Regions from separate parts of the Homo sapiens genome. Here all the other regions are reported to be linked to region 2. Evidence: microRNA targets listed by miRTarBase, many of them from high-throughput screens and not tested one by one. Region 2 holds a microRNA gene; each other region holds the end of a gene's coding sequence.

Region 1 (5,073 bases), not on the chromosome of region 2:
GCAGCCTTTAGGAGGGCACTTCCTGTCTGTCCCTGTCCTGGTTCCCTCAAGGACTAGGCTTTGGAAACACAGAAGCTGAGGACTCATTCCCAGCTTCTCTGGGAAGCTGCTGTCAGCCTTTCTCTGAAGTGACAAATGCATCCTTGATGGAACAAGATACAAGGACATGGGACATCATCTAAGTCATATTTTTGTGAAAACCATTTAATCTGAATCCGGCCATGAGAAAACGTAAACCCAAATAGTGCACCATTCTGTAGAGTGCGCTTGGATACTTTAAAAACACCAACATCTCAGCTGGGCGCGGTGGCTCATGCCTGTAATCCCAGCACTTTGGGAGGCCAAGGTGGGAGGATCACGTGAGGTCAGGAGTTCAAAACCAGCCTGGCCAATATGGTGAAACCCCATCTCTACTAAAAATACAAAAATTAGCCAGGTGTGGTGGCGGGCGCCTATAGTCCCCAGCTACTTGGGAGGCTGAGGCAGGAGAATCTCTTGAAGCCAGGAGGCGGAGGTTGCTGTGAGCCAAGATCGCGCCACTGCACTCCAGCCTGGGTGTTGCAGTGAGACTCCGTCTCAAAACAAACAAAATAAACTAAAACAAACAAAACAAAAAACAAAACGCCATCAACATCTCGAAAAACAAAACCCAAAAAGTAGGGAAATTTTGATTTTTAAAGAGACTAGAAGGACGTGGTGGCCTGGCATGGTGGCTCACACCTGTGATCCCAGCACTTTGGGAGGCCAAGGCGGGAGAATCACTTGAGCCCACGAGTTTGAGACCAGCCTGGGCAACAAAGTGAGACTCCATCTCTACAAAAAATTTTAAAATTAGCTGGGCATGGTGGCATGTACCTGTGGTCCCAGCTACTTGGGAGGCTGAGGCAGGAGGATTGATTGAGCCCAGTTGGTTGAGGCTGCAGTGAGCCGTGATCACACCATTCTTTGCACTTCAGCCTGGGCAGCAGAGTGACACCCTGTCTAAAAAAGAAAAGAAAAAACAAAACAAAACAAAACCAGACAGACATGGTAACTGAAAGCAGTGACTGATCCTTAATGGGACCCTGGATGGATAAAAGGGAGAAGGTATAAGGGACAAGGTTGTGAGGGCACCTGGCGTATGGGCTGTGCTTTAGGCCATATTCATATAAAAGGAGGTGCTCCCTGGAACATTCCTTTCTTAAGTTTGAGGGTGGTGATGGTATTGTGGTTGTGCAGGAACGTCCTCGTGCCTGGGAATTGCATGATGTGTTTTGGGGTGAAGTATCAGTGTATGCCACTGACTCTCAGATGGCTCGCGGGGAAAACGATGTGTATGTATCCGAGAGGGATAATGCTCATATGGGTGAAATATCAGTAATCGGTGACTCTGGCCGCGAGATATGTGTTCATTATTATACTGTCCCTTCAATGGAGGTGGCGTCTTCTCCACTGCTGTGCCAGGAGGGCTGGGCGTGGGGGTCCAGATTCTGTACATCAGACACCCCTACCCCATCTTGTGCTTAATAGAGTGCAGGATCCCTCCTGAGACCCTAATCTAACCCTCAAGTCCCTTCCCCTGCCACAGCAGAAGCAGGAAGGCTAAGGGTCCATCCCCAATCCCCATGGCCCATCCGGGAGAGCCGGCTGCTAGCTGCACCCCTGAACGTCTGCTTCAATGCCTGATGCAACTGGAAACCTCTTCACTTACCCTTCAAGTCACCCCCAGCTGGGTCTCAGGGTAGGGGTAGGTCTGGGAAGGTGCCAGCCCTGGAGTTAATCCAAGCCACCTGTGGTCACCAGATGCTCTGTCACCACTAACAGGTGTGTTGGGATCCGGGGTCAAGGGCTGCTCCAAGCACAGGGGTCTGGCCACAGTTCGGATGGGCTCCCAGGGGGCTCGCTGGGGTGGGCGAGGTAGCCTGAACAAAGCTGCTGGGAAGGCAGGGTCCGTGCATCCCCTGGGCCTGAGATCACGAGCTTCTTGGCTGGCTTGGGCCAAGGGAGGAGACCAGGAGTCTGTGGCTCCAGAGCCTGGCCAGAGAACTTTCTAAAAGGCATGTTCCGGCCGGGTGCGGTGGCTCACGCCTGTAATCCCAGCACTTTGGGAGGCCAATGGGGGCTGATCCTGAGGTCAGGAGTTCAAGACCAGCCTGGCCAACGTGGTGAAACCCCCATCTCTACTAAAAATACAAAAATTAGCCGGGCATAATGGCAGCCTCGGGAGGCTGAGGCAGGAGAATTGCTAGAACCCAGGAGGCGTAGGTTGCAGTGAGCCAAGATCGCGCCACTGCACTCCAGTCTGGGTGACAGAGCAAGACTGTCTCAAAAAAAAAAAAAAAAAAAAAAAAGGAAAAGGTATGTTCCTACCACTGGGGCTTGGCACCTCCTGCTTCTGCCAGGACTGCGTGCCGCTCCCTCCCTGAAAGCTGGCTACCCACTCATCCTTCTGGTCTCTACCAGAACACTCCTGCCCAGGCTGGGTTTGGTGGTCGCGCTGCGGGGTCCTGCAGCCTCATTCTGCTGCGTCTTGTTTTTTACCACCTGTCATTGACTTGACCTTATCTGTCACGTTCAATATCTGTCTCCCTCACCAGAGCGAGCTCTGCCCCAGCACTGGGCCTGTAGAGGAGGTGCTCTGGAGATGCACTCAGGGCTCGCACCTGACAGAGTGGAAGCAGCTGCCAGGCAGGGGGATACCGAGTACCCCACCCTGGAGAATGTGCAGACTGTGGATCTGTGGGGGGTGTAAACTGTCCTCTAGGGTCGTCTTTATCAGCCTATCCTGGCTCCTGTGATAGCATCTATCTTTCAAGGGTTTATTTCAAACAGGAAGCTGGTAAGTGCTGCACACTGATTTTCGGGAGAGGGGACGGTCAGCTCCATCTTCCCGCCCCAGATCACAGAGCTGGCATGTGACAGCTGGCATCCCGGCTGGCACTCCCATCAGGCTGTCTCCACAGAGCTGCCTTTTGGGAGGGGTCTGGTTCAGTTTCCTGGGCCCACTCTGCTCATCCCCCTGCAATAATGCCACAAGCCCTTGGTACACGTTACCTCATTTATTCTCACAACATGCCTGTGAGGTAGGGAGGGGCAGGGACTGTCCCCGTTTTACAGAGGAGGAAGTTGAGGCACACAGAGGTCAAGTGACTTGCCCAAGGTCACAGACGGCGGCCAAGCTGGAAATGGGCCCCGGAGCAGACCCTTGGTTCACCTGGGGACGGGGGGGGGTCCCCCCCTGCAGCAAGCGCCAGCCAAGAGGATGTCTCGGATGCCAGAGAGGCGCATACACAGCATAGAGCAGCCCCTCAGGTACTGAGCTGGCTTCGGGGCTCAGCCCCTGCCCTCCCCTACCCCGCCCTGCAGGCCCGGGCCATTGCAGCTCAGGGCTCGTGACACCCTGGGAGTGGGATGCGGGGGCAGGAGAGAGAGAAGGATAATTGGGGTTAAAAAAAAAATAGAACAGAAAACTCAGAGGCTGGGCAGATGGGCCCTTAGGAGTGCGGGGCGGGGGGAGGGGGGTGGAGACCAAAAAAAAAAAGGGCTGCTTACACACAAGGTATATATTTTTACACACACTTGTACACACACCTAGATATAGTACATGTAAAAATATATGCTATTCACACACCCGCCTCCTGCCAGGTGCCCCGAGAGCCAGCGGCGGCGGCGCTGGGTGGGCATGGGTGAGCAGATGGGCGTTTGTTAACTATACACTCTAAGGTCTATGTGCATATGTACACATACATACAGACACCGCCGCCCGCCCCTCGGGCACCGGACACAGGCGCGGCTGAGGACTGACGGCCCCCTGGAAGCCACTCGGGAGTCCTAGATTTTGCTGAAGGAAGAAGGGGCTGGAGAAAATAAAAGGGCAGGAGTCTGGAGTGTGATAACTGTGGCTTCGTCTCATTTCCACCCGCCAAGACTAAAACTTCCCTCATCTGCTCAGCGGTGAGTGAGTCCTGCCTGACACTGCCCAGGGCTGGCGGGGCACCTCCCAGTGAGGCGCCTCCATCTGCGTGTGTGTGTGTGCGCGTGAGGTTGTGTGTGAGCACTTGGCGGGGGGAGGGAGGGGACGCATGTCCATCTCTCTGTCCTCTGGGCCCTCAACCGCAGAGAGGGCTGAGACCCAGAAAGCCGCTTGCCACAATGGTGACCACTGTGTGAGCTCTGAAGGGAAAAGAGAAAAACATAAGAATGAAAATCAAGGTCAGAGCGGGGATAGCTGGGGAAAGGAGGGACATGGCAGGTGCCCAAGGCTGCCCTTGGACTGTCGTCATCTTGTAAACAAGCTAGTGTGAGTTCTCATCAGATAGAACGAGTAAAAAGACCGCAGTATGGAGGCTGGGCCGGGAGTTGCCGACGTCCATCTATCTAGTCCACCACGGCCAGCAAGAGGAAAAAAAAAGTTTTCTAGTTTCGTGATTTTTGTTGATTTTTTTTGTGAGTAAAATCTTCATAACCTAAAGCTGGGAGGGACCCAAAAAAGCCAAATTGTGAGCCCTTGTATGCGTCAATTTGAAAGTTGGCTCAGGGTCTCTAGACAGAATAACCATAGCAAAGGTTGAGAAAACTCTGTTCCGTTCGCACTTAGTTTTTGTGTTTTTAATGATTTAAAATCGTTTCTTTCCTCCTGCATGGTCTCAGAGCCTGGTCTGGGCCTCCGGGACATAAATCTCGATGCTGTCTGCGCTCTCGGTGGCTGAGTTCTGCCGCACAGAAGCTGCCCGCTTGGCCGCCAGGAGTCTCTTGCGGGCCTCCTGGCGCTGCTTGTCGCTGGCGTCTGAGGCCTTGTCGCGGCTCACTGCCGGCTTGGATTTGGCTGGCTTCTTTGGGACCGGAGGGGGTGGTTTCTTCTCTTCCTTTAGTGAGACAGTGAGGAGAGAACAAAAATAAAATAAAGGTGCCACGTTTTGTGTGGCACTACCCCCACCATATGCCGGCAGCTGGAGTCTCCACCCCAGCCTCCCCGCATCGGGCACAAGCAACACACACTTGGAATCAGGAAGCCACGAGAAGCGATGACTGACAGTGGGAAGAGCTCAAGGCACTGGAGCAGAAAGCAAGCCTAGACTCCGAGAGCGCTCGAGC
Region 2 (5,073 bases):
GCGCCACGTGCAGACGCACTGGGTCAGGGGGATGGGCAGCCATTTGAGATGGTCTGCTGGCCACCACTCTGCATAGGATGGGAAGCTAAAGGGTGTGTTGTTGCAAGGGGGCCCTGTGGGAAGCAGACTGTGGGGCTGGAAGTGGGTTGGGTCCCCTTGCCGGGTGCCCTGGAAGCGCCCACAGGGGGCCATCATCCGAGGGTGGGCAGGCTACTAGGGGCAATCCTTTTGGTAAAAACAACTCAAGATGCTGGATGAAATATGAAAACATCTTAAAAATTGCCAGGAGCTGATGAGCTCATGCAGCATTTGGCCAACAGTTCGGAGAGCGTGGCCCACAGAGGACAGCAGAACACAGTGGCCAATCCTGCCTGAGAGCGTTTGCCCACTGAACACACTGGGGCTCATACTCTGGTGGCCTCGGGGGCGAAGGAGACAGAAGACAAGGTCCAGTCACCCCCACAGGATGAAGAACCTAACAGAAGACTCTCCTCTAAGTTAGGCTGGGACTCCAAAGAGCGATGCTTAGGGAGAGATGAACTACAGCCGCAGCCACCCCCAGGGGTTATGGGGACATTGCACATAAGTGAAGGGAAGTTTCTGAGAAGCTGTGGCACAGCCAGCCGTCCAGGTCCACACTGGGGGTACAAGGACCCACAAGCCAAGCACAGTTTTAAGGGGTTCCAGCACTCGTAGTGCCCCTGTGCCTGAAGTTCTCTCTGGAGAAAGATACCTTCATCCTATACTTCAAAGAAGTCTCAAAATCATTTTTCAAAGACCAGAAGCAGTACATAGTCAGAAAGAACCACATAATGAAAGAAGCACCATGAGCAAGAACCAGCAGAAAGATAACCGTACATGCATCATCAACCAACCATGCTCTGATGGCAGAAAGAAAACAGACAGCTCAGAAACATCTGCAGGGCAAAGGAAGTGATGAAGAGCAAACTGGGTTTACAAAGCAGCAAAAGGAACTCGGTTTTTTTTTGTTGTTGTTGTTTTGTTTTTGCTCCTGTTGCCCAGGCTGGCTGGCATAATCTCGGCTCACCGCAACCTCCGCCCCCCGAGTTCAAGCAATTCTCCTGCCTCAGCCTCCCGAGTAGCTGGGATTACAGGCATGCGCCACCACGCCCAGCTAATTTTGTATTTTTAGTGGAGACGGGGTTTCTCCATGTTGGTCAGGCTGGTCTCCAACTCCTGACCTCAGGTGATCCACCCACCTCGGCCTCCCAAAGTGTTAGGATTACAGGCATGAGCCACCATGCCTGGCCAAAAGAACTCTTAGGAAGCTATTTTAGAAATGAAAGCTTCAGTGACTGCACATTAAAGCTCAGCTGTGGGTTTAAGAGCAATCAGGTGCAGCTGATGATGCAGAACCATCCCGAATGCAGTGCAGGAAGATGGGGAACACGCTGGGCTTTGGGAGTGCACCCAAGGTGCCACTGATGGGGTGGGCCCAGCACTCACCATGTGGCCAGAAGACACAAGTCCCTTTACTCTGGAGGAGCTGGTCTTTCCTGCACATGAGAACCCCTGGCTGCAGTCACTGGAGAAGCCCTGCCAGCTGGTCTCTACTGGAATCCCACTGGCCTGGAGCCCAGGGCTGCCCAAGGCCTGCTCACCAGGGACATGCTCCTCTGGGGTGTTAGAGAAGGCCGTTGGTCTCAATCAACTTCAGCCGACCTCAGCCCTCCCTGGGCTGCACGCCCAGCTGCTGGCAAGGCCATGGATGAGGGCAGTTCTGGCCACTGATACACGTAGGACAGACAGGCAGAAAGGCACCCCCAGTTCAGCTGCAGGACCCCACCATCCTAGCTGGCCAGGGTGCAGGGGCAGCAGACCAGCCCTCCAGGCACCAGTGGCAGGGAGGGCTCCATGGTCCAAGGGAAGGCCATAAACAGATCTCCGGACAGCCTGGCACTGGAGGTGTGGGCGCAGAGCCAAGGGCTGTGGCCTCGACGAAGACGCGGTCATTGGGAGGGAAGGACCAGAGGAAAGCCAGCCCCTGGGGAGGGGACCATCAGGAACTGCCTTTCTCTCCAATCCCTCGCCCCCTGCTCGAGCCAGGCCCACTGCCCACCGGCCCCCAACCCAGCTCTAGCCAGCAGGTCTCCCCCTCCCCCTGCCAGCTTCACCTCCCCCGACCTGTGACCTTGCCTTTGCCTGGGCCCCTGTGTGCTCCCTAAGCCAAGCCCTGCAGGTTCCCTAGGTCCTACAAGGTCCCCACACAGGCCCACCACAGCATTCCAACACCCTCTCATGCCTGCTGACTTGCCAGGCTCTGGGAGGGAGCCATGGATATAGTCCTTGTCCTTTTGGTCACCATATCTTGATCTGGGCGCAGGGCATGTGGGCACACGGGTGGCCAGGACCACTTCCCACAACTTCCACAGGTCCCATCACACCAGGTGAGGCTGGGCTCCTCAGGGCATCTCTTGTGCCACACAGAGCTCGCCCTCAAGGTTGCCCGAATTGGCCAACTCTACAGGAGGGTTGGTGTCCCAGGGAGAATCGTGCCTGGCTTTCCAGGTGAGGCTCCGCCCTGCCTGTCCCCACCCCTGCCCTGGGCTCAGCACTTGGGCCAAGCCCAACCAACTCTCAGCATGTCCTTGGCAGTCCAAGAAGGCCAGAGTGGTCAAAGCCATGCAGGGTTGGCCCTGAGGCCCAGGCGGCCAGAACCAGACCACAAAGAGCAGCTGGAGGAAGAGGCAGGCAGGAGGGTCTGGGGTCCAGTCAGCAGCCTTGCCCTGGGTCTCAGAGGCCACAGCCCAGAAGCATCTGAACATCTGCAGGAAGCCACGCCCAGTCTCTGCATCCTGCACAGGACCCCGCCTGCCCCAAGGGGCTAAGACCACCAGGGCAGCCTGCACACAACCACCAGGCTTGCAGAAGCAGTCAGATGGCCACACGCCCATCCTCTCCAGGCGGAAAATGCTTACCCCTCTCCATTCTGTCAACTGGCCTCACGGCCACCGGGATAGCAGTTGGGCAAGTAGGTTACAGGGCGGGTGGGGCAGGTGACGCAAAACCTGGCTGCCAGGGCGGGTCCAACCCCAACCGGAAGGAGGCTGGGCCAGGGCACCACAGGTGGGAAGATGCTGATGAGCTCCTCCCTGTGCTGTGTGCTCTGCAGCTGTGATCTCATCTCAAGAGTCCCAGGTCACATGGCAGGGATGGGCAAGGTGAGCCTGGAGGGGCTCATGGTGGGGCACCTGCTGGTTGGGCTAGAGGTGAAGAAGCAGTGAGCTGGCCACCCCGAGCAGGCACACGTGGGATGCTGGGATCAAGTGGGCCTGCTGGACCCTGCACCCACGGCCTGGCAGCCCCTGAGAGAGTCAGGATGGCCTCGGCACTGGATCTGTTCATTTGTAGCTCTGCTCTGCCCAGCCACGCTGTGGACACTCCTGGAAGTCAGCATGCTGCCTTCTGCTCTCTCATAGCAGGATCTGCTGATCCCCGCCAGGGTGCAAGAGGTCCCTGGGCAAGCTGGTGATGGGCAGCCAGCTTCCTCCTGGCCATGGTGGTCACTGTGTTCACATGTGGTCCTACTAGAAACATCATCTTGAAAGCAACTGGCATGACACAGGCACATGGCCAGGCCTCACCAGGCCCACAGGGATGGAAGAGCCCAGATATGTAGCCCAGGCTGACAACAGGAGGCCGTGTGGGCAGCAGTCGAGAGGAGCCATACTTCAAGACTGAAAGCAGAGCCTGTGAGGTGGGCAAATGTCCTGCCACCGACCTACGACACCAGCACAGCGCAGCAGGGCAACGTGGCATGGTGGTGAGGTTCCTGAGCCAGGACAAGAAAAGAAGCGTTGTTCTCATGGCTATTTGAGGAAGCACATCACCTCCACTCTGTCGCCCAGGTGCAGTCGTGTGATCATAGCTCACTGCAGCCTCGAACTCCTGGGCTCAAGCCATCCTCCCACCTCAGCCTCCCAAGTAGCTAAGATTACAGCTGCATACCACCACACCCGGCTAATTTTTTTTTTTTGAGACAGAGTCTCGATCTGTCACCTAGGCTGGAGTGCAGCGGCGCGATCTCAGCTCACTGCAGCCTCCTCCTCCCTGGTTCAAGCGATTCTCCTGCCTCAGCCTCTCAAATAGCTGGGACTAGAGGTGCGTGCCATCACACCCAGCTAATTTTTGTATTTTTAGTAGAGATGGGGTTTCACCATGTTGGCCAGGATGGTCTCGATCTCCTGACCTTGTGACCCACCCACCTTGGCCTCCCAAAGTGCTGGTATTACAGACATGAGCCACCACGCCTGGCCCTAATTTTTAAATTTTTTTGGAGAGGTGGGGTCTCATTATGTTGCCCAGGCTATTCTCAAACTCATGGGCTGAAGTGATCTTTCCACCTCAGGAAGTCTTAATGACTGGGTAGTATAAGTGACATCCTTTTAAAAAATTTTACAGCAACTGCTGGTTGGGCGAGGTGGCTCACGCCTGTAATCCCAACACTTTGGGAAGCCAAGGCGGGTGGATCACCTGAGGTCAGGAGTTTGAGGCCAGCCTGGCCAACATGGTGAAACCCCATCTTTACTAAAAATACAAAAATTATCACGCCTGTAATTCCAGCACTTTGGGAGGCCAAGGTGGGTGGATCACGAGGTCAAGAGTTCGAGACCAGCCTGGCCAATATGGTGAAACCCTGTCTCTACTAAAAATACAAAAATTAGCCGGGCGTGGTGGCGGGCGCCTGTAGTCCCAGCTACTTGGGAGGCTGAGACAGAAGACTTGCTTGAACCCAGGAGGCAGAGGTTGTAGTGAGCCAAGATCGTACCACTGTCCTCCAGCCTGGGCAACAGAGCAAGACTCCATCTCAAAAAACAAACAAACAAACAAACAAACAAATTAGCCAGGTGTGGTGGTGCGTGCCTATAATCCTAGCTACTGAGGAGGCTGAGGCAGGAGAATCACTTGAACCCACGAGGTGGAGGTTGCAGTGAACCGAGATCGTGCCATTGCACTCCAGCCTAAGAGACAAGAGGGAAACTCCATCTCAAAAAAATAAAAATTAAAAAAAAAAAAAAAAAAAGCAACTGCTTACACGAGAATGCCCTCTTT
Region 3 (5,073 bases), not on the chromosome of region 2:
AACAAAGGATTTGGATGCCAAAACTAAGATATTTTGTTAAATCCTCTAGGAAGCCAAACATCTCTAAAACTCTTGAAAGTGTGGTCAGTGAAAGATGTTGTCATTGAATCTTGGATGAACTTAATAGATTTCTTCTTTTGCAATCAGCCCTCATATTTCAGAATTACAAAAAATAAATCCAGTTTAGATCTAGCTACCTAAACGATAAAGCCTTAAACTAACAACTGCCTCTTCCTTTAATACCAGAATCAAGCAAATGGCCAAGCAGATGGCAGTTTAAAACAGTAAGAATCCTGGGAACACGTGGGAAGGGTGAAGAAGATGGAGAAAGTGGAGAGACTGCAGAAAAATGATTCCAAATGTTTCCCTACTTCTTTCCTCTACCCTCTGACCCATAAAGCTTGCCTATTGTCTTGCCTTGGCTTGGAAAAAGTTGCAGTGAAATAGCTTTAGAATCAAAACAGATCTGTTTGAATTCTCTCTTGCTTCTAACTAATCTGAATTCTAATTCCTTGATTTATGTAAGACATAATACCTTCCTTATGTAGCTATCCTGAGAACAAAAGGAAGAACATAAAGTATTGCAGAAAGGACTGACTATGTCTGAATCCTGCTTCCTACCCGATTTCGTACATCCTATCCCCTCAAACAATATCTCAGAACCTGCCTGCTCAGTGTGCAGACTGAGGGCCAGCAGCCTCAGCATGACTGGGAGCTCACTAGCAGTTCAGGCCGGCTGACTCAGAACCCACATTCTAGCAAGACTGCCCATCAAAGCAGGAGAAGCATCATCCTGTAGGAAAGGTCTCCTGATTTCCAGCAACCCAACTGTTCAACTACATGTGAACTCTTGCTTATTCACCCATTTCTAGTAATTGCATTCCTCACTGTGTGATGAAAGATCTAACACATGTATTTTCCACGTATGATGCATGTTGGCAACATGTCCATTCTGGATATGATGTGGGATAGCCTCCCAGTTGCTGTGCCTGTCACCATGCAAAGGGAGTGGTGCTGGCTAGGTACATCCCAGGCCCTGAGACAATTTGCTGGGGACTTGTATTCTGCTCATTGGTTAGATATCCCATAATTTACACCGGAGGGAAGGCTGAAGGCAAGAAATAGCCATCGATAAACTCATGTTGAGTTTAGAAGGTGGATTCCAGAGAAGCACTTGGTCTTTTGACCAGAATAACATAAAAACAAATACACACTAAAGTCATCCAGTTCAAAAGATTTAACTAGTTTATTGAGGAGTTTCTTGCTTCTTTGGAGTATAAACATGATTTCCAAGTTATTGCTTTCAACTTAATCTATTGAAACCCCTTTACCCAAGTGTATATCAAGTTCCTTAACACCATCTTGGCCAGATTTCATAACTGATGAAAACATTCAATGATCAAACCCTCTGCACTGAAAACCAGTTAATAGAAGCATACTTTATTTTTGGGACAATGGAAGGGTTAATTTTGGAAAATGCTGACCTTTATGGGTTACATTACACTTTTGTATATTATGAACTGATTAAAGTAACACACTTCCTTAATACCAAACTTGATTTAGTAAAAATGATGGTCAGTGCCTGTAAAAATTATCTTAACTGTATTCCAACAAGGACCATGCCTTATTTCTTCCCGTTTCCAATACCTAGTAGTTTCTGGCAGCAGAATAAGTAGTCAATAACTGCTCAGAAAAACTTAACTGTTGACAAGCCAAATCTTAAAGGGCAAAGGCTATTGAACTATCTTTTTAACTGCAAAACAGGGTCATTATACTTGTTCAAATTTTTGAGTTGACAATATCTAATGAGAGACAGCAACTTTTATAAATTGATAAGTTTTCTTTGGCTTCTTTAGTGTACGTCATACCCTGGAATGATTTATATATTCCATTTCTGCTCAGAAATGGTTTTTTTGTTCTCACAAGTTTTTGTCAAAGATCTAGTACAAGGGTCTGATACAGAAATTATTGAAATATTGTTTTCAACATGCCTTTAAATTACTACTAAAAGGAAAACATTGACAATGAATATAAGACTTAACAACTGTAAGGTTTGGCAGTTTAAGAAAGTAACAATTTAAAAATTAACAAAAGGAAGATAATTTGTAATTTGTATAAGGATTATATAGACATTTAAATATTTTTATCTGAGGAATATTTTGAATTATTAGTAATAAACAATAGAGGGTTAGATGTTTTGATGAAAAATTAGTACTTAAATCAACCAAAGCTGCACAGCATCAACTGTTTTTATTTCTTTTTTTGAGACGGAGTCTCGCTCTGTTGCCCAGGCTGGAGTGCAGTGGCGCCATCTCAGCTCACTGCAAGCTCCACCTCCTGGGTTCACACCATTCTCCTGCCTCAGCCTCCCGAGTAGCTGGGACTACAGGCGCCCGCCACCACGCCCGGCTAATTATTTTGTATTTTCAGTAAAGACGAGGTTTCACCATGTTAGCCAGGATGATCTCGATCTCCTGACCTCATGATCCGCCTGTCTCAGCCTCCCAAAGTGCTGGGATTACAGGCGTGAGCCACTGCGCCCGGCCACATCATCAACTTTTGAAGTTATATTTAAGAAATGCCTTCAGGGGAAGAAAATAATTGTTCATTATTAGAAAATGAATTAACTGTAAACTCAAGGTATGTGCCTATATAAATGTCTGTGCTCACTTCATTGGAGACATTTAAACAAGTTGAGTCTTACAAAGGAAAATCTTTTTCCTTTTCCTGGCCATAAGTAATTACTGATTCAGCTTTTTAAGCAATTCAGAGCACACTGCAGGTGCGCCAGATTCAAACAAGCATTGCATAAACCAAATGGAGATAAAAGCTACCAGGAACCTGAGTACTACTCCGGATGAGACACCAAAACCCACGTCTAACTTAGCAACTAAGTGCACAGTATTAATTCTCATTGGTCAGTGTATGCATAAGTCACTTTGATGAAACCATCTACAGATTTTTAAAAAATCTTTGTGGCCCTTGTTCACAACCAGTGATCTTTGGAAGTTAAGGTCTGCTGAGTTGAGTTACAAGGCAGGTGCTATATTCAATGCTGGTATGGTACTGATACCATTTCTACGAAGTTAGAACTTTCTAAAACATCTGAAGATAGGGGAGGCATGTGCGACTAAAATAAGGATTAGAGGAGTGACTGCAGAGACTGTCAGTTGGTAATGAGGGAGGAGGAGGATAAGCTGGTGTTAGCCCCAGATGAGACCACAATGCAGCAACAAGACAGCACAGAACTGCAGGAACTTCTAGGAACCACTGTCTGGTCCTGCTGCCAAGTGAGGCAAAACCAAAGAGGGATTTAACAAAAAAAGGCACAAAGGAAAAACAAAATGAAACCTAAAGTTATGAGTCAAAAGGTTACCCCACTGTTACCCTGCATTAAAGAGGACAAGGCCAGAGTGAAAACTCTCTCTCCTGGTTCTTTCAAACAAGACAGGCTTTATTTAGATCACCAAAAATAACATTTTACAGAAAGGGAACCATAACATTACACAACAAAGTATAGCTGTAAAATCTCAAATAAGAAAGGCAATGCTTTCTTTAGATCACCAAAAATAATGTTTCACAGAGAGGGAACCGTTAGAAGCAAATGCATAGCTGCAAATTTTCTTTTGCCATCAATATCGATTCCCTCTAAAATACTTTGAGACTACTTTGTGGTTTCCGAGTACAAACTAAACCTTTTTGGACAGAGTTGCTCGGCTTCATCAAAAAAATAAAACCAATTTGCAAAAAAAAATTTGTTTAATGCTAACAAATAAAGAGACAATGTGGTTCTTGCTAACTAACTGCAATGTCTACTGAAATGGCCTAACCTATTCCACGAATATTTCACTGTGAACATAGTTGCTTTTTCCTTGCCATCACAGATGGCCTGCAAAGTAACAAGTGTCGTGTCAGAGCACTTTCAGGCACCCAGGGAATCATTCCTAACAGAATAACTGCAGTATGTGGGCAACTCAAACAACAGAGCCCCAAGGTGGGCATTGTGTTTGCGCTGTGGGTAAAGACCCACCACCTTGTTAGTTATTCACCTGGAACCCAGAGCGCCAAACTAGACAGAGCAGTTGCTCTTACAGAACCAACAACATTTTAATAAATTGCCCGGGGGTTCTTGGTGCTGTAATGTGCCTCACAGGCAGCGACATAAGCCGACTCTGGGAAGAAGTCATCGTGGTATTCTGCTAAAAACCTGGAAAAAAAAAATAGCCCCAATGAGCACCATACTAAGGACTAAATACCATCAAGCAAAATATTGACTTTCAACCTACTAACATTTCAACTGTTTTTTGGTATTAGGAAGAAAAAAATGACTATAATTTTGATCTCTCTATACTGATTATTTTCACTGCACTTATCCAGCTTCTATGTGAATTACTACTTATCTGAATGCCTTCACCATCATCAGGTGTACAAATGGAAACAGAACCTACACTCCACTAGGTGGCAGTCTGGTTATATAAACACTTCTGTTGGGGGCGGAAAAAAAAAAGCCCATGAATGTTTCTACATTTTTCTGTTGTTCAAACAAACTATTAAAAACAACAGATTATAGGCTGGGCACTGTGGTTCACGCCTGTAATCCCAGCACTTTGGGAGGCCGAGGCAGGTGGTCACGAGGTCAGGAGATCGAGAACATCCTGGCTAACACAGTGAAACCCCGTCTCTACTAAAAACACAAAAAATTAGCTGGGCGTGGTGGCGGGTGCCTGTAGTCCCAGCTACTCGGGAGGCTGAGGCAGGAGAATGGCATGAACCTGGGAGGCAGAGCTTGCAGTGAGCCGAGATCACGCCACTGCACTCCAGCCCAGGCGACAGAGCAAGACTCCGTCTCAAAAATAAATAAATAAACAAAATAAAAAATAAAAAACGATTATAAACAATAAATCTCACTTCAGAAATGTACATCATTTATATGAGCAAAGTCATACAAAAATTGAACAGAACAACTAGTAATGGCATTTGGTGTCCTAATTTGCCATGCCAAAACATGTTACAGTTCTAGCTAACAGTACCAAGACACAGGAAAGACTCATATGTATGAAGACGGATGTTAAA
Region 4 (5,073 bases), not on the chromosome of region 2:
ATCATGCTGTTGGGCAAATGGTTCTTTCAAATCCATGGCAATCAAAGAAGTGGATTTATAGCATTTTCCCCCACACTAGCAGTAGCCCTGCTACAACAATGCCAAACATCTGAATGACTGTCTTGCCATGTCACCATGAGCAAGTGACGGTATCATCCACAGGGAATGGGATTCAAATTCAGTCTACATGGATCAGTGGCAGAGGGCAGTGCTTTACAGTGGGGTTCTTACTGTAAGAACTTACTGCTCTTCATCCAATTTCCCCCAAGTCCTTTAAAAAGAACTTATCTGTTCACAGAGGAAGAACCCTGTTTTAGTTATAGGAGAGTGGAGGGGGTCAACTGGCCAAAGTAGGACAGTTACTTGGGTTGCATGCAGGCCAGGAGGCTCTTAGGGAGTCCAGATCTGGGCTAGAAGGTGTCTCTTTCTGCAGTTTGGGAGGAAGGTCACATGGTATGGACGGTTCTCTCACACCACTGTTGGGTGCAGCCAACACTACGCAAGGAGCCGTTGGAGCCAAGCCTGTCTCTGCGAAACCACTAATCCTTCTTGTCCTCTCTCCTCCTGCCTGCCTTGCGATGGAAATAAGCTCAGAAACCTCTCCACTTCCCAGCTCAGCCAGCCACAGAGCAGCACATTGGTTCAAATGTTACCCTTTTCTCTGGCACATCCAAGCACAGTAGCTCAACCAGACATGAACCTACTGCCCACCAAATCTGAGCTCTTGAATACACATTTTCTCCAGTCAGATATTGGTCAAAGTTTTCAGCCAACTTTTATCCACAGCCAAAGAAAATGGCCTTTCCTTTCTAATAGCCTGTAGATTTGTTTGGACCACATGTCTGTTTCTGTAGCATTTGGTGCATGTCCTCAAGCCTGGAGCTAAATGTGCCACATTCTGTGCAAGGGAAGAAGAAATGGCAGGATGGCTGGACACCTCTCCCAGCAATTCTACACCAAGACAAAATAAAACTGGAAACATTAGCTCTTTGAATGCTCCCCTCTCCTTGTTGAAAATCCCTCTTAAGGTGCTTTATCCAAAGACTTTTATGGAAATAAATTTTGTGTTGGAAACTCACTATCTGCTGTAGAGGAAACATCGTGTAAAGCAGGCCATCAACTATGTTTTAGTATTGACATTTCAAAAAGGCCTCATAGCTCCCATGCCACCATCCCACGCCCATCCAGTCCACAGTCTCCATTCAGCCACCAAAGGGATTTTCCTAAAATGCAATTCTGATCATGACTCTATCCTGATTTAAAGGCTCCAGTGGCTCCAAACCCCTTCCATGACAAGTCTAGCTCCTCCACACTTCCTACCAGTTTCCTTAGGATTCAGCCCTGCCTACCTATGAAGGGACCCCTCAACCCCTGAGCTTCCACATCATGCTCTGGCAATGCCACGTTGCTCAGCGGAACCCATCATGGCATTTCATGCGTCCACACCTTTGCACATTCTTCCCTCATTGTGGCATGCCCTGCCAATCCTTTCATTCTACTGGAAATTTACTCTTTGTTTTAAAACCTTAGCAGCCATTGCTTCTCTCAGGGTTTCTCTGGTCCCCAAGATAGTTAATTGATGCTTTCTTATGCCACCTTGGTACCCTTGCCTGTTTTGCAATTTGTCTATACACCTCCTATGCTCATGAACTTCTTGAGGGCAGGAACTATGCCTATCCTCATGCCTGGCCCTTGACCCAAGCTCAATGCATGTTTTTGGAATGCATGAGGAATGAACCAACTGACAGGTTCATCTATCAATAGAAAGTGGGCCCATGGCATAAATTCCCAGAATAATGCTGCAGCAAGACTCCACCCAATGAGGCCTAAGTGAGGCCTCATTGTCAAGGGAATAGAGTGTGTTGAATGCAGAGGCAATCAACATCACCCCCGAAGTAGAACAACTCGCACACAAAAGGCTGCATCAGAGGTCGTGTTCACCATTCTCACAACATCGTTTGCCACTTATTATTCTAGTCATAATGATGGCTCTCTTTCAACGTCAGCATAATGCCTGGTGCTCAGTGGATCCTTAACAAATACCATGTAAGGATAAATGAATAAGTGTGAAATCTACTTTTTAAAAGAAGGCATCAAGGGATTGGCTTTTAAAGGCATTTCCCATATGACAGATTTTTCTGAGGCATGAGTGGGTTGTCCCTCCTAAAATTTGACCCAATCAGGAAGTAGAACAGAGATGGAGCCTGGGGTAGCAGTTAGGAATCTGCACTAGAGAGACACAGTGTCAGGTTTACCTTGGTCCTAGGTCAGTTTCCTTCCTTCTCAAGAAATAGCCAACTATGGATGGTATTTCCCGCCCCAACCAGAAGGCTCTTGCCTCTCCTTTGTCAGAGGCACACAGTAGCATCACCACAGTCCACATTGACCAGGAACTTCACGTGCAGTGATGAGGATGAGCACAGGGTGTTCCCTACCTTTGCTTCACGTGCTAACATTATGCAATGGAGAACAGTCATAGAGACAAATCCTGGATGAAAACCACCACCCCTGGGGATTAAAGTTGTCTGTTCACCATAGCTGTTAAGAGCAAGGGCTCTGGACTCAGACTGACCTGGATTCAAATCCAGGATCCAGATCTTTCTAGCCAAGTCAGCTGGGACAAGTCAATTATCATTTTAGGGGGTCAATTTCCTCACCCACAAAATGGGAATGATCTTACCCCCCTCAAAGGATTACTGTGAGGGTTAAAGAATGTAATGTATGTGAAGCCTGCACAGTGTCTATAGATAGCAAGTGCTCAAAAGTGGAAAACTATGATTAAGAACTTTCAAAAATATTTTCACGATAGTCAGATCAAAAGGAAAAATATTCTTTCAAGACACGGTGCTTTCAAGAGAATGGATTGTCTAATTTTTAGGAGCCAACAAATGCTCATTAATCAATGCCCCACGGAAGAACATGAGAAGACAGTGTTGGCATTTAAAACAATAACTGTGGCCATTACCAGGCCCCAGGATGGACAGATAGGGACAAGGACAGGGATACCCAGCATTTCTCTGAGAGCTGGTGCAAGAGGATTAATCCTGAAGGGCTCATTTCTGATTCTCCTCTGCTGGACAAAGAATGACTGAGTTGGAACCTCAGAGGGTGCAAGTCAAGGTGCCAAGAGTAAGATGCCAGTTTCGGTCTGTAAGCAAGTGTTTCTGGGGGTGAGGGAAGGTCAGGGGAAACCTGACCACTGGACAGGAGTGAGGCAGGTACAGTGCATTGCTCCAGGTGTCATGCAAAGCTAGAAAGTCAGCATTTCCTCTGTTGTTTTGATCCTCCTTATACAACCCAAAGCCAACAGAGGATTTCAACTTCCCCAAATTTCTGCCCTGAGCATTAAACAACTTTTTCCTATGCTAAATTTGGTTTTAGTTTTGAAGTGCCTGAGATGCACAATTCAAAGGGGTCAAGTTCCTGGCCTCTTATGTTGATGAAACCATCCCCAATCCTCAGCTTACATGGCTTGCCCCTATGCCTACCACCTCTTATAGCTCTTCCATCCATCATTCAAGAGGTTCCATGAAGAAAGCTCAGGGTTAATGTTTGGGGTAGTACAAGCTAAGCCATCAGCCCTTGGGAACAAAGATTACTTTCTGTTGGAGGGGTCAATTTGGCTAGTCACTTTGAGCAGCAGGGCAGGGACCCAAAGTGGAAAAGAGAAGAGATTTTTAAATGTAGAGATAGCTCCATCCACAGGAGATTGGATTCCTGGGAAGAAATGGACCTTACTCAGGGGAAGCCTTGACCTCTGATTTAGTCTGAGCCTGTGAGAGCTCACGGCCCATTTCTGGCCTTCTTGCCCTAGGCTCAGATTGGTGGACAGCATCCAAACAAAGGCAGCCCACAACTAGGCAGTGTTGTGTAGTAGAAGGAGCACTGGACTGGAAGTCAGGAGACCTGAATTCGAGTGCAGGCTCTGCCGCTAACTAGCTGTGTGACCTTGGGCAAGTCACCTGATTTCTCTTGGGCAACTGTAAAACGAAGGGTTGGTCGGGTGATCTCTAAGTTCCCCTTCCGAATGTGGTCCAGGGTCCTACTCTATCCCTCCTTAGCCCTGTGCTTGCAGGGACAGAGATGGGAGAAGGGAAGGGGAGGAGAGAGAGGAGGCAGGAGGGAGCCCAAGGGTGTCATGAATCAGGACTCCACTTTCTCCTTCTTTTTGCTCTTTTTCAGGAAGGAGGGGGTTCGGAATTTCTTTTTCTTCTTTGAGGGAGACTTGGAAGGTGAGCCCTCTGGGGACATGGGGCCGCTGGTGACCGACTCGGTTTTGTCCTTAGAGGTATCAACATCCGTGTCAGCACTGGTGGTCATCTGGCTCAGGCCTTTGCTGAGGATTTCCTCTGCCGTCTGCTCCTCCTCCCTCCCGTTGACCACCACCCCTTCCGGCTGGGTTGTTTCGGGCTCTGTGGTGGCGGCTTTGCTTGTTTCTGTCTTCTTAGTACCTTCTAGAAAAAGATCAAAAGATATGACCTGTAAGATTTCATTCAGGTGACAGCTTCCACCTGGGGCTAACAGAACCATTTCTAGGGAATTCTATAAAATCAATCCAGAGCGAGGGGAGGGCCAGCCTGATGTTGAGGGATGGCTACCAGAGACAGATGGAAGGACTGGGTTCTGATCTGCACCTTCCATGTGGCCTGTCCTGGGAACACCCCCTTGCAGGCTGGCAGCTCTGGGCTCTTGTCTATGAATTTAGATGGATATTAATGTCTGAAGTGGCAGGAGGCCCGGCTGGGGTCCAGCTCAGAGTTTTTCTAGGCAAGAAAGAAGAAACAGACACAGAGAAAGGAGAAGGCGTGAGGTGTACAGCTTGGTGGAGACATCTAAGCATTGCTGTAACCAGTTTAGTTTCACCAATAAAAACATGGAAATTACATGTCCTCAAACCCATTTCATTTTCTACACCAGTGAGGAACTCCAAGAAATATGGAGAATATCTTCCCAGTAGGCAGAGGGAGAGTGGAATTCCTTATATAACACAGACCCCATATTTCCAAGACATGTTAGTCAAAAGGGGAAGACCCCTGGTCAGCCCTTTCTAGCAGCCACTGGGGCCCCCAGGTC
Region 5 (5,073 bases), not on the chromosome of region 2:
AACTGCATTGTGGAGAGTGTTATGATCTAGTCCAGGGACCTGGGCTTGGTGCCCATGTGTGTGTAGGTATGTGCAGGTGTGCATGCCTCTGTGTGTGTGTGTGTGTGGGTGTGTGTGTGAACTTTCATTTCCAATTCCTCACAGACTGGTATTTAGCCAAATACACTGACAATTCCTAGAGAGATGAAAATTTAAAACTCTAAGTCTTGCAAAAGGTAAGCTCTATTTTTTTCTTGTTAGATTCAACAGACATAAAATTACGACGTCCTGTTTCCATAGCAGTTTCTAGACACTCACTGTCAATTTCTGAGCATGCCTTGTTGCAGTAGGGGCTTGGTTTGTGTCCAGGTGCTGTTATGTGGAGCACACTGGAGTACCCCTGGCCTGGTGTCTATAGACCCCTTTGTCAAACTCCTATAGTACAGGGCTGGCCCAAGTTGGCGCCATCATCTTTCTGTGACTCTCCTCTTGGCCATGAGCTATCTGGCTCCTTAAACTTGTCGTTTCCTGCAGAATCCTGCTAATGATTAGACCACCGCCACATGTCCTCCAAACTTCCTTCTGATGCCCTGGGATTCCCCCAACCATTGCAAACCCAACCCAGGGTGTTAACTGCAGTGGGGTGGGCAGTTTACATATGAGTGATCAACTCAAGAGGGGCAATTTTCTTTCCCAGTTTCTTGCTGGTGAAGGAGAGTCAGGTGGGGATGGAGCAGAGTGCCAAGGAGCACAAAGCAGACAGCCACACAGTAGAAAGAGTGCAAGCTGTACTGCCTTGCCTCAAACCTGGGGTCTTACTCTGAGCTGAATGACGTGTCTGGGGGGCTCTTTTGCAGGGGTCATCCAGGGAGGAGCCCTGTCAAGCATTTGCACTCAGATCTTGGCAATGGTCAATCAAGAACAAAATAAAGTCCTGTGGATTCCAGCCTGCCCGCTCTAGGAGAATGCTGTGCTGTGGATGACTGCAGCTGGCCGCCTGAGGGGACACCAGACTCAGCTCTTTTCTAGCGACTGAAAGTAGAAGTCTGTCCGTCTATGAACATGCGGGGGAAGGATCCGGAACCAGGACCCAGAAGCACCTCCTTTGTAGACAGAGGGCCACGGCTGCGTGCGATCCAGGCCCAGGCCCACACACTCTGCCCGTGTCACACGTGTGCTTTAACACAAAACAGATAACACTAAAGACGGGTTCAGCACCCACCTTTCTTTAGCCAGCTGATCAGAGATGCTGCAAAGAGAACCTTTCGGATCACTCGTTTACAAGCCTTTTCTAAGTATTTGGTGGTTTATGTTTACTTGAACGGCTCCATGTTGCCGGTGCCCAGCCCCTGTCCCCTCTGTCAACCCCCTGTCGCTTTGGTGTTGGTTTCGTTCCCGTCTTCAGCAAAACGACCTTGGAACCTCAATGGGGGCTGCTTTGCTTTGGGAGGTTCTTGTTGGTGGGACCAGAGCTTTGACAAACCTCCTGCTCCTTGGTGGCACCTCTCCTGGAAGGACGTCACAACTCCAGGTGCTCAGACTGCCTGTGGCAGCAGAACCAGTGCCTTTGGCATTTTCCTCCCACAATGGGGAAGGTGACTTTGGCATTCTTACAAACTCGTCTCTCGGCCTTTCTCTCCTGCCTTCCACAGCCTCTCGTTTCTCCTCCATCTGTGCTTATTACTTGAGGACTGTGTCTGCTCCGTGAGAGCTGCGTGGGCAGGGCTGCAGTGGGGTCCAGGTGGTGTTCAGCTGTGCTGATGCCTGCCATTGGGTCCTCCTTAGGCTCTGTAAGTCGTGACAGCCTTCATCAGTGCAATGTTTGCAGGGTAATTCTTAAACTTTTTAGAGGGTGGCAGGTACATCAGTTCTTTTTGATATGAAAACATTCATGTTTCAGACATTGAATTGAGAGCTTTTAGGGGAAGCATAATGGTTATTGTCACTATCAACAGTCTAAAAAGAAAAACTGAGGTCTTTTTAATCTTGATTACAGCACTCACGGCATGCACCCTACTCAGTGTGGGTGTCTTCGTTTGGGGGCTTTTTTTTTTTTTGCACTTCTGAGGCTAGATATGTCTGGCTGAAGATTTGATGTGGTTCCTCCTTAAGCTATGCGTCCTGTTAATAATAGGTACTGTACTGGGCTCTGTGTAAGTGTCGTTGGGGTAGGACCTATATTTTAATACTGTTCCTAACATTTCATTTTACTAGCGAGAAATCTTTGATTTCATTTTATTCTTTGTAATTCTAGACACTAGATTGTAGTTTAGCCATAACTGATGTTTTTTAAAAAGGGATATATTTTCTTGCACAGTTGTTCAAAAAAGAGACAAGTTTCAGTCCTCAATGCTGTCCTTTGTTTTACAGGTACAAGTTTTCTAGCTCAGACAAACTATGAAAAACTGTAGACTATTCTCAAGGTATTAACTCGCAGACCCTCTGGGGGTAGGGGCTGTTTTCTAAGTTACAGGCAGAGTGGGACTGAGATGGTACAGTGTGCACAGACAGGTACTGAGCTGACAGACTGGGATTTTCTGTACTAAAATGTTACTTTGTATCAAAAGTTAAACAGGCTTTAGTACAACAAATAAAGGTCAATTTCTGTAAGGCTGTGTTTGAAGATGTGAGTTTTTAATCTCTTCCTAGTCAGTCAGCTTTCCTGTATTTCTAAACTTGAGACAGCTTCTCCTCTGCAGCACGTAGCTGGAGTTGGCTGATGTGTAGGTTCTTTCTGTCTCACATGACAATTTGCAGTCCCTGCTACCCGCTGCATCAGCCTCTCTCTCACTCCTTCCTGCCCTTCCCTGCCACCCATCTGTCCAGTGTGGCATGAACTGGTGACTGCAGCCAGGCTGCCCATCTGTGTGAGACCCAGATTCTGCCCTCTGGCCCTCACATTCAATTCTGCAGGCTTGGGAAAAGCAAAAGGGAGTGAGCTGAGTGCTCTGGGTAGCATTCTCAGTCAGGGCCCTGTCTGGGGCCCTTGGCTGGGAATGGCCCCACCTGCTTGGGGGCTGCTTTGTAGTACCTGACAGCATCACACTGGGAGATCACCCAGCATTGCTGGACTCCCAGAACAGCCCACGTGGGCCTGAACTCCGTGTTGCAAGGTGATGAGGAAGTTGGGAGGCTGGGCCTTTAGCTGCAGGAAGCCAGGTTGAGGCCTGGGGCAGAGCAGAGCCCTCCTTCTCTGATCCTTTTTCTTGGAGGGGCTTGGGGGCAGAATGTTCTCCAGAAGCTTCACTCACACTCCACTGGTGGCCAGGCTGGTGGGGGCAGACTGATGTGGATGCCTCCCTCATCATTTCCTGCTGGGTGAAGTTCCACTGTGGCCCTGCAGTCTTGATCTCACCTGTGGCCACGGGGTGTCACAGAGCTGTGCGGGGCTCTGGTAGTTGGAGTGGGCCCTTGTGTCCATAGGGACAGGGCCTGCCTCTGTCTCCTTGACAGCCCACACCCTGCGCCATCCTCAGAATGGGCAGCAGAGCCGTTGATATATTTTTTTTTTGAGACGGAGTTTCGCTCTCGTTGCCCAGTCTGGAGTGCAGTGGCATGCTCTCAGCTCACTGCAGCCTCTACCTGCTGGGTTCAAGTGATTCTCCTGCCTTAGCCTCCTGAGTAGCTGGGATTACAGGCGTGCGCCACCACACCTGGCTAATTTTGTATTTTTAGTAGAGACGGGGTTTCTCCATGTTGGTCAGGCCGGTCTCAAACTCCCGACCTCAGGTGATCTGCCTGCCTCGGCCTCCCAAAGTGCTGGGATTACAGGCATGAGCCACCACTCCCGGCCTAACACGATGGATTTTAAGTCACTGACTGGGCAGATGGGGGTGTAGGGGTTGGGGTGGTGGCTGCTGGTTTTAGGGCTGGTTTCTTTCACAGAGCTCAGGTGTGATGCCAAACCTTCACAGTTGCACTTAGGCCATCGTGATTTTATTTTCTTCTTTAGATTTTTCTGTAATTTCCAGATTTTCTACAGGTACCTTGGTTTTCTTTTATAATTACAAGGGGGGGAAAATCCTATGTCTTTTTCAGGTGGAAGGCACTTAAGTCACTGAGATCGCTCTTTCTGGACACACGGGCCTTGCAGGGCAGCCCCGAGACATGCTGTCAAGCAGCCCTGAAAGGATTTGTACCCTGGTGGGTTAGAGGCTTATTTACCCCACATGGAGACTGTGCTGGGGGGCGGGGTTGTGGGCACAGCCAAATGGGCCTCCTCCTGGAGGTGGTGTCTGTCTCACACTGGCTCAGATCATTCTGGAAAGGCAGAGCAGATTCTTCAACTCCAGCCATGAGACCAAGAAATTGAATATGAGATGACCTCTGCGGCCCCTTCCCATGCTAACAGCTATGATTCTGTGATATGGGTGGGCAACAGGACTCAAATGGAGCTTGACTTTGCTCCTGGCCTAGCAGAGACTGTGGGAAACCCCAGCTTCAAGGCAGGAGGAGACCTCATGCTTAGGCGCCGACCCTGAGCAGCTCTGGAGTAGAAGCCGAGCACCGGCCAGAAGCCTCAGGCCTTTCTTTCCAGCCAAGACAAAGCTTTGAGGCTCAACAGCAGTGGGCTAACCAGAGGCTTGGGGAAGCCGAGCTGCCACCTCCTGTGGGGTTGATGAGACACAGGGCCACAAGGGTCATGATGTCAAAGATGAAGAGAAACGTGAAGTACAGGAAGGGATGCAGAGTGAACATAAACCGCAGACAAGGGTGCACGTGCTGGCGTGGGAACGGTGGACCTCTCAGCAGATGGGGGCTCCAGGGTGGGTGGGCCTTCTGTACTGCCCCCTTCTGCTACTTTTCTGGCCTGTGGGTTCCCTCACCCTTCTCTTGTCCGTCCATACTCTTTCATTTGCTCTCCCTTTGTAGAATATAGTCTCTGGCCTCCTGATGGTTCCCCTTTAGTTCTCCCTATTACTATGTGTTTTTATCTCTTTTTCTCCCCAACTGTGAAAGATGTCATCCATAGAGAAGAGCATATCCAATATAAGTGTATAGTTTTGTTATTAAGTAGAGATGGGATCTTGCTATGTTGCCCAGGCTGGTTTTGAACTCCTGGGCTCAAACAGTCCTCCCACCCTAGCCTCCCCA
Region 6 (5,073 bases), not on the chromosome of region 2:
TCAAGGCAAGCTTGGGTTGGTGTCGAAGAATGATGAGAAGGTATGACCTGTCTCTGAGGCATAAAGTGCCCGTGCCCCAGCACCTGCCGGAAGACCTGACTGAGAAACTCGTCACTTACCAGCGCAGTGTCCTGGCTCTGCGCAGGGCGCATGACTATGAGGTAGCTCAGATGGGGAATGCAGATGAGACGCCCATTTGTTTAGAGGTGCCATCACGGGTAACTGTTGATAACCAGGGCGAAAAGCCTGTCTTGGTCAAGACACCAGGCAGGGAAAAACTGAAAATCACAGCAATGCTTGGTGTCTTGGCTGATGGGAGGAAGTTACCACCGTACATCATTTTGAGGGGAACATATATCCCCCCGGGGAAGTTTCCCAGTGGGATGGAAATTCGCTGCCACCGGTATGGGTGGATGACTGAAGACTTGATGCAGGACTGGTTGGAAGTGGTGTGGAGACGGAGGACAGGAGCAGTGCCCAAGCAGCGAGGGATGCTGATCTTGAATGGCTTCCGGGGCCATGCCACAGATTCCGTGAAGAACTCCATGGAAAGCATGAACACTGACATGGTGATCATCCCAGGGGGTCTGACCTCACAGCTTCAGGTGCTGGATGTCGTGGTCTACAAGCCACTGAATGACAGTGTGCGGGCCCAGTACTCCAACTGGCTTCTGGCTGGGAACCTGGCGCTGAGCCCAACCGGGAATGCTAAGAAGCCACCCCTGGGCCTCTTTCTGGAGTGGGTCATGGTCGCGTGGAATAGCATCTCAAGTGAGTCCATCGTCCAAGGGTTCAAGAAGTGCCATATCTCCAGCAACTTGGAGGAGGAAGACGATGTCCTGTGGGAAATCGAGAGTGAGTTGCCAGGAGGAGGAGAACCACCAAAAGATTGTGACACCGAAAGCATGGCTGAGAGCAACTGAAGGGAAAGGGAAAGGTAACCACTCAGGAGTAGATACTCAGTGCCTTTGCTGACATGTCTGTGTTCTACAAACACCTTCTCTCCATTATTTTTCTGTTTTTAAGTTCCCTTAGAGCCTACAGTGCAGTAGTGTAGATCAGGGGTCCCCAACCCCCAGGTCACGGACCATACTGGTCCATGGCCTGTCAGGAACTGGGCTGCACAGCAGGAGGTGAGCGGCAGGTGAGCAAGCATTACCACCTGAGCTCCGCCCGCTGTCACAGCAGCGGCATTAGATTCTCATAGGAGCACAAACCCTGTTGTGAACTGCACATGTGAGGGATCTAGGTTGCAGGCTCCTCAATGCCTGAGGATCTGAGGCGGAACAGTTTCATCCCAAAGCCATCCTACCACCCACTACCCCGCACTTCCTGGGTCCCTGCAAAAATTGTCTTCCATGAAACCAGTCCCTGGTGCCAGAAAAGTTGGGGACTGCTGGTATAGATAACAGACCATTAGCATTTTCTCCTTTATATGAAACATTTATTATTTGATTTATTTGTGTCTATTTTGCTCTGTGGCTTGGACCCAGAAACACTTGTATAATAGGTGAAATGAACAAAGAATGAGCTGCCAGAACATCTGAGAGCTGTAAAGTTAAAATTATTTGGACCCAAAGAAGCATAGTCTGACGTTGTTCAGTTCACACAAAATTTTGTCTGAAAAGCCAACTTTTTTCTTTCCCTTTTAAATTATGCTGAACATTTAGGGCCAGTATGTGTAACTGACATGCTGGGACAGTTGTACTCACTTTTGCTGGCCTGTAGGACTGTGACATAGGGAGAACACTAAGTGTGTCCTCCGGGCCTCGGGTCTCAGTCCTGGAGCTATCTACAGTATGTTACCAGCGAGTAAGAATAATAGCTTCTACTTGCTTTTCCCTACAGAGTTCAGGAGTTTTAAAACGTCATCTTAGTCTCATTATGACCTTCACATGGGCTATGACAATAATTTCCTGTAGTCAGCAGATGTCTGAAGGAAGATATTTTTTAACTGAATCTTTACACCAAAAAAAGAAAATAAAACGGTGCGTATCTAGGACTCTAGTGAGGGCTGAGGACAATAGGCCTGGAATTTTCTGGGTTGAGTACACAAGAAGAACAGCTTTCAAAGGAAAGTAGGAATGGAGGCCTAACTGAGACAACACTAGTGAAATGACCCCACCCACCTACACCTCCAGAGAGGAGGAGGATGAGCATGTACAGCAGGGGGGACACCCACAAAGAACAAACAATTCATTTACCTGTTCGTTCTCATCTCCCTAATTATAAATTAAATTGATCCTCCAGACAGTGTTTTATATGAAGGAAGAAGCCACCTTTTTTACAGAGGACCTGAAACCGTCAACCATCTTCACACATTCTTTTTCTTTCTTTTAAAGTATAATTAGGTATTTCCATCTTCCTTGCTTTTTTCTCCAAATGAAATGCTAATGGGAGCCTTATTTTACCCACTTCAGCTATATAAGTCCATCTGTGTTTCAAAGAGTGACTTATGTCTCCTGCCTTGCTTCCAAATTAAATTGTACTCATATTGCTGAATCCCATTGTAATTCTGGGATCCCTGGAATTACAATGGAGCAAGAAGTTCTTACTATTACATTCAAAATCACCAAAATTGCTTTTTTTTCCCCCTTGGGTCCTCCTTGCTTTGAGAAACCCCATGAATCCAGCCTCCCTTTTCTGCTGACCCTTATATTGCCTGCATTGGATATCAAACTGAATTACATTGAGTTTCCATCTTTTCTTCATTTACCTTTTGCTTTTCCCTCTCCTTGTTAGATAACATTTTTGTGCACTTTTAATTTCCTAAGCTCCTTACCACCTCAGGGACATGATTAAAAACTTCCAGAAGAGGAAAGGAGAAAAAGCTATGCTAAGTTGCATTTATGAATGTTGGCCTGTAATATTGGTCATGAGCTTTTGCTCTTCTAGTCTGCCACAATTCTCTCTGCAGCTCCTGAGGAAGTGATGGGAGTAGACAGATTCACAGTGAACAAGAGATTTGGGAGACCAAGTGGGCATAAAACTACGTCTTGGCCTCTATTTGGAAATCTGAATGATGGAATTATTATGTTTGTTAAAAGTTATACCAAAAAGCCAAGGGTTAATTCATTTAGGTTCTCTCTGTTTTCCAGCAAATGGAACTCTGATTTAAACAGCTGGGGATGAAATTCCTCAAGATGATTATTCCTGAAAGTGTGGATGCGCTGGATGCGCAGGGAACATCAGGAAAAGGCCACGGGGCTCTGAACAGCCCCGGTCCAGACAGCAGCCTGTACATCCATCCCAGGACACAGCCCAGCCCCTCCCCACACCATACAAGGTATCAGAAAAGTCTAGGACCTATCATTTCATCAGAGACATGATCAGAAAAGAAACTGCTTCTGCCCCATTTCTTGTTTTGGAGATTACTCCATCTGTCCATCAAAAGAAACCTGTAAATATGAAAGAACAAAGGTTATTTCCTGGAGAAAAGACAATTTATTCAACACCAACGAGGGACTCATCATATGGGCACAACTCTGGTGTCCTTCTATGGAGAAAACCTCAAGTAAAGTTTTATTCTGCCTTTGAAAATGCTTCCAAAAGTAGACCCTGTCCCCACACAGGTCAAGACTACAGAGAAGGCTTTGTAGAAATGTGTCACCTATGTACACCTGCTACTTACACATTTCCTCTTTTGGAAAAATGAGATACTTAGAATAACAAGAAAATTAAGACATACTGGCCTGGTGCCAGCAGATGGCTTTTCTATAGACAAACTAGGTTAGTGTGGAAGATATAGGTTAAAATAAACTATGCTGTTTTATTTATCTTCCCAACCTGATTGGCAGCTAGACTTTTTTAGGGTCTCATTTAATGGCCCTGTTTTTTTCATTATTATATTTAATGATAGGGCAGGATTTCGTATGCAAGCTCTTGTTTCTCAGGCTGCCTGCAGAAGAAGTCGCTATAAATTATCTGTTGTCTACATGGTACAAGGCCCATTGACTCATCTGATGCTTGTTTTGTTAATTTCTTTAATATTTTTATCACGGGGCAGTGGGAGGGCTTGGGCTTTTAGCCACAGCTGTTTTAAGACTTCTGATCTCCTGCCCTGCAGGAATAGGTGGGAAGTCATTGAATTTTTACACTATAGTAATTTGCATTCCCACATAAGTTTGAGTGTTACGAAAACATTCCTTTAAAGGGATCTGTGCTACACAAAATATGCCAGGACCTCACAGACAAAGCCATTGCTAGAAATGTCATTCCAATGATCAGATCTGGAAACAGGCTGCCATAACCACTTTTCCTTCTTGTAGACTCAGCTCACCTGTATATTTAAACTGTTCTTGGCATCTTGAAACACCTATTTCTACTCAGGTACTCATTGTCCTGTTACTGATTCACCTTTCTGATCCTTTTCAACCAGTTTTCCCCCAAGGGGGGAAATTTTACTTAACCTCTAGTATTTGAACAACTCAATATTTGAATTGTTGCCCCATTTGCTTTTACCTGTACTGTATTCTTGGTCATCTCAAATGGCGTCTAAACCCAGCTACTTTGCATTCCAGAAGTTTCCATTCCCTCCAATTCCACCTAATTTTTCATCTGTCCTAGTTACTGGCTCTTTCTTCATGTCTTATTTCTCTTGCTTTGGGAGCTTAAAAGATTTTACAAGACCTAATTTTGGGTTCCTTCCTTGGAGCCATAGTTACCCTGCCAAGAAGAGTAGAAAATGGGTTCAACTCCTGTTTCGCTCCACCAACACCTCTGTGAGTCTCATCATCAGCTGAGCGATGATGCCTTACAGGTTGCATAGCACTGGAACTTTCCTAGAGTAACGGCTCTGCTGCCAGGGTTTCTCTGGGCTCATTCTTCCACTGACTTAATTATGATCTATGCCTAACAGAGCCCCAGTACAACTATTTTGCAGAATGGCTGTTACCCTAGAATTACTATAGCACATATTGAGATATAGTTGTACTCCCTAGTAGATAGGAACTGACCCCAACAATAAACTTTGATAATAAAGACAATAGGCTATGGTGATTTTATTTCTTTACCTATTAGCATTGTGAAAAGTTACATTCAAGGTATTGGCTACACCTTATTCTCCATCCGGTT

The links. Region 2 holds the annotated microRNA hsa-miR-185-5p (UGGAGAGAAAGGCAGUUCCUGA, at 2,021-2,042, opposite strand). A microRNA usually pairs through its seed, bases 2 to 8, with sites in the 3' UTR of a target mRNA and lowers its output. Matches are read on the target gene's strand: a 7mer-m8 pairs with bases 2 to 8, a 7mer-A1 pairs with bases 2 to 7 and ends in A, and an 8mer does both.
Region 1: the mRNA of DLGAP4 is a reported target of hsa-miR-185-5p. Seed matches in the 3' UTR shown: 7mer-m8 at 3,402-3,408.
Region 3: the mRNA of MSL3 is a reported target of hsa-miR-185-5p. The part of its 3' UTR that is shown has no 7-base or 8-base seed match.
Region 4: the mRNA of ADD2 is a reported target of hsa-miR-185-5p. Seed matches in the 3' UTR shown: 7mer-m8 at 4,103-4,109.
Region 5: miRTarBase lists DLG5 as a target of hsa-miR-185-5p. Seed matches in the 3' UTR shown: 7mer-m8 at 1,613-1,619.
Region 6: miRTarBase lists POGK as a target of hsa-miR-185-5p. The part of its 3' UTR that is shown has no 7-base or 8-base seed match.

Annotation. Positions count from the first base shown.
Region 1 is chr20:36,526,584-36,531,656 of GRCh38, reverse strand. It overlaps DLGAP4 (DLG associated protein 4), which reads right to left. Exons shown (of 13, transcript NM_001365621.2): 13 at 3,024-4,844. The coding sequence ends at 4,626. All of the region lies in intron 2 of DLGAP4-AS1 (DLGAP4 antisense RNA 1), which reads left to right. Among named protein-coding and RNA genes, the nearest start is that of MYL9, 12 kb to the left of the region's middle.
Region 2 is chr22:20,030,122-20,035,194 of GRCh38, reverse strand. It overlaps MIR185 (microRNA 185), which reads right to left and starts at 2,056; the gene lies at 1,975-2,056. All of the region lies in intron 1 of TANGO2 (transport and golgi organization 2 homolog), which reads right to left. RefSeq lists enhancers at 939-1,008, 2,692-2,911, 3,346-4,042.
Region 3 is chrX:11,774,114-11,779,186 of GRCh38, reverse strand. It overlaps MSL3 (MSL complex subunit 3), which reads right to left. Exons shown (of 13, transcript NM_078629.4): 13 at 3,415-4,207. The coding sequence ends at 4,108. Among named protein-coding and RNA genes, the nearest start is that of MSL3, 18 kb to the right of the region's middle.
Region 4 is chr2:70,659,282-70,664,354 of GRCh38, forward strand. ADD2 (adducin 2) reads right to left here. Exons shown (of 16, transcript NM_001617.4): 16 at 1-4,454. The coding sequence ends at 4,144. Among named protein-coding and RNA genes, the nearest start is that of ADD2, 110 kb to the right of the region's middle.
Region 5 is chr10:77,788,307-77,793,379 of GRCh38, reverse strand. DLG5 (discs large MAGUK scaffold protein 5) reads left to right here. Exons shown (of 32, transcript NM_004747.4): 32 at 837-2,589. The coding sequence ends at 940. Among named protein-coding and RNA genes, the nearest start is that of DLG5, 140 kb to the left of the region's middle.
Region 6 is chr1:166,849,487-166,854,559 of GRCh38, forward strand. POGK (pogo transposable element derived with KRAB domain) reads left to right here. Exons shown (of 6, transcript NM_017542.5): 5 at 1-937; 6 at 3,099-5,073. The coding sequence ends at 923. Among named protein-coding and RNA genes, the nearest start is that of POGK, 13 kb to the left of the region's middle.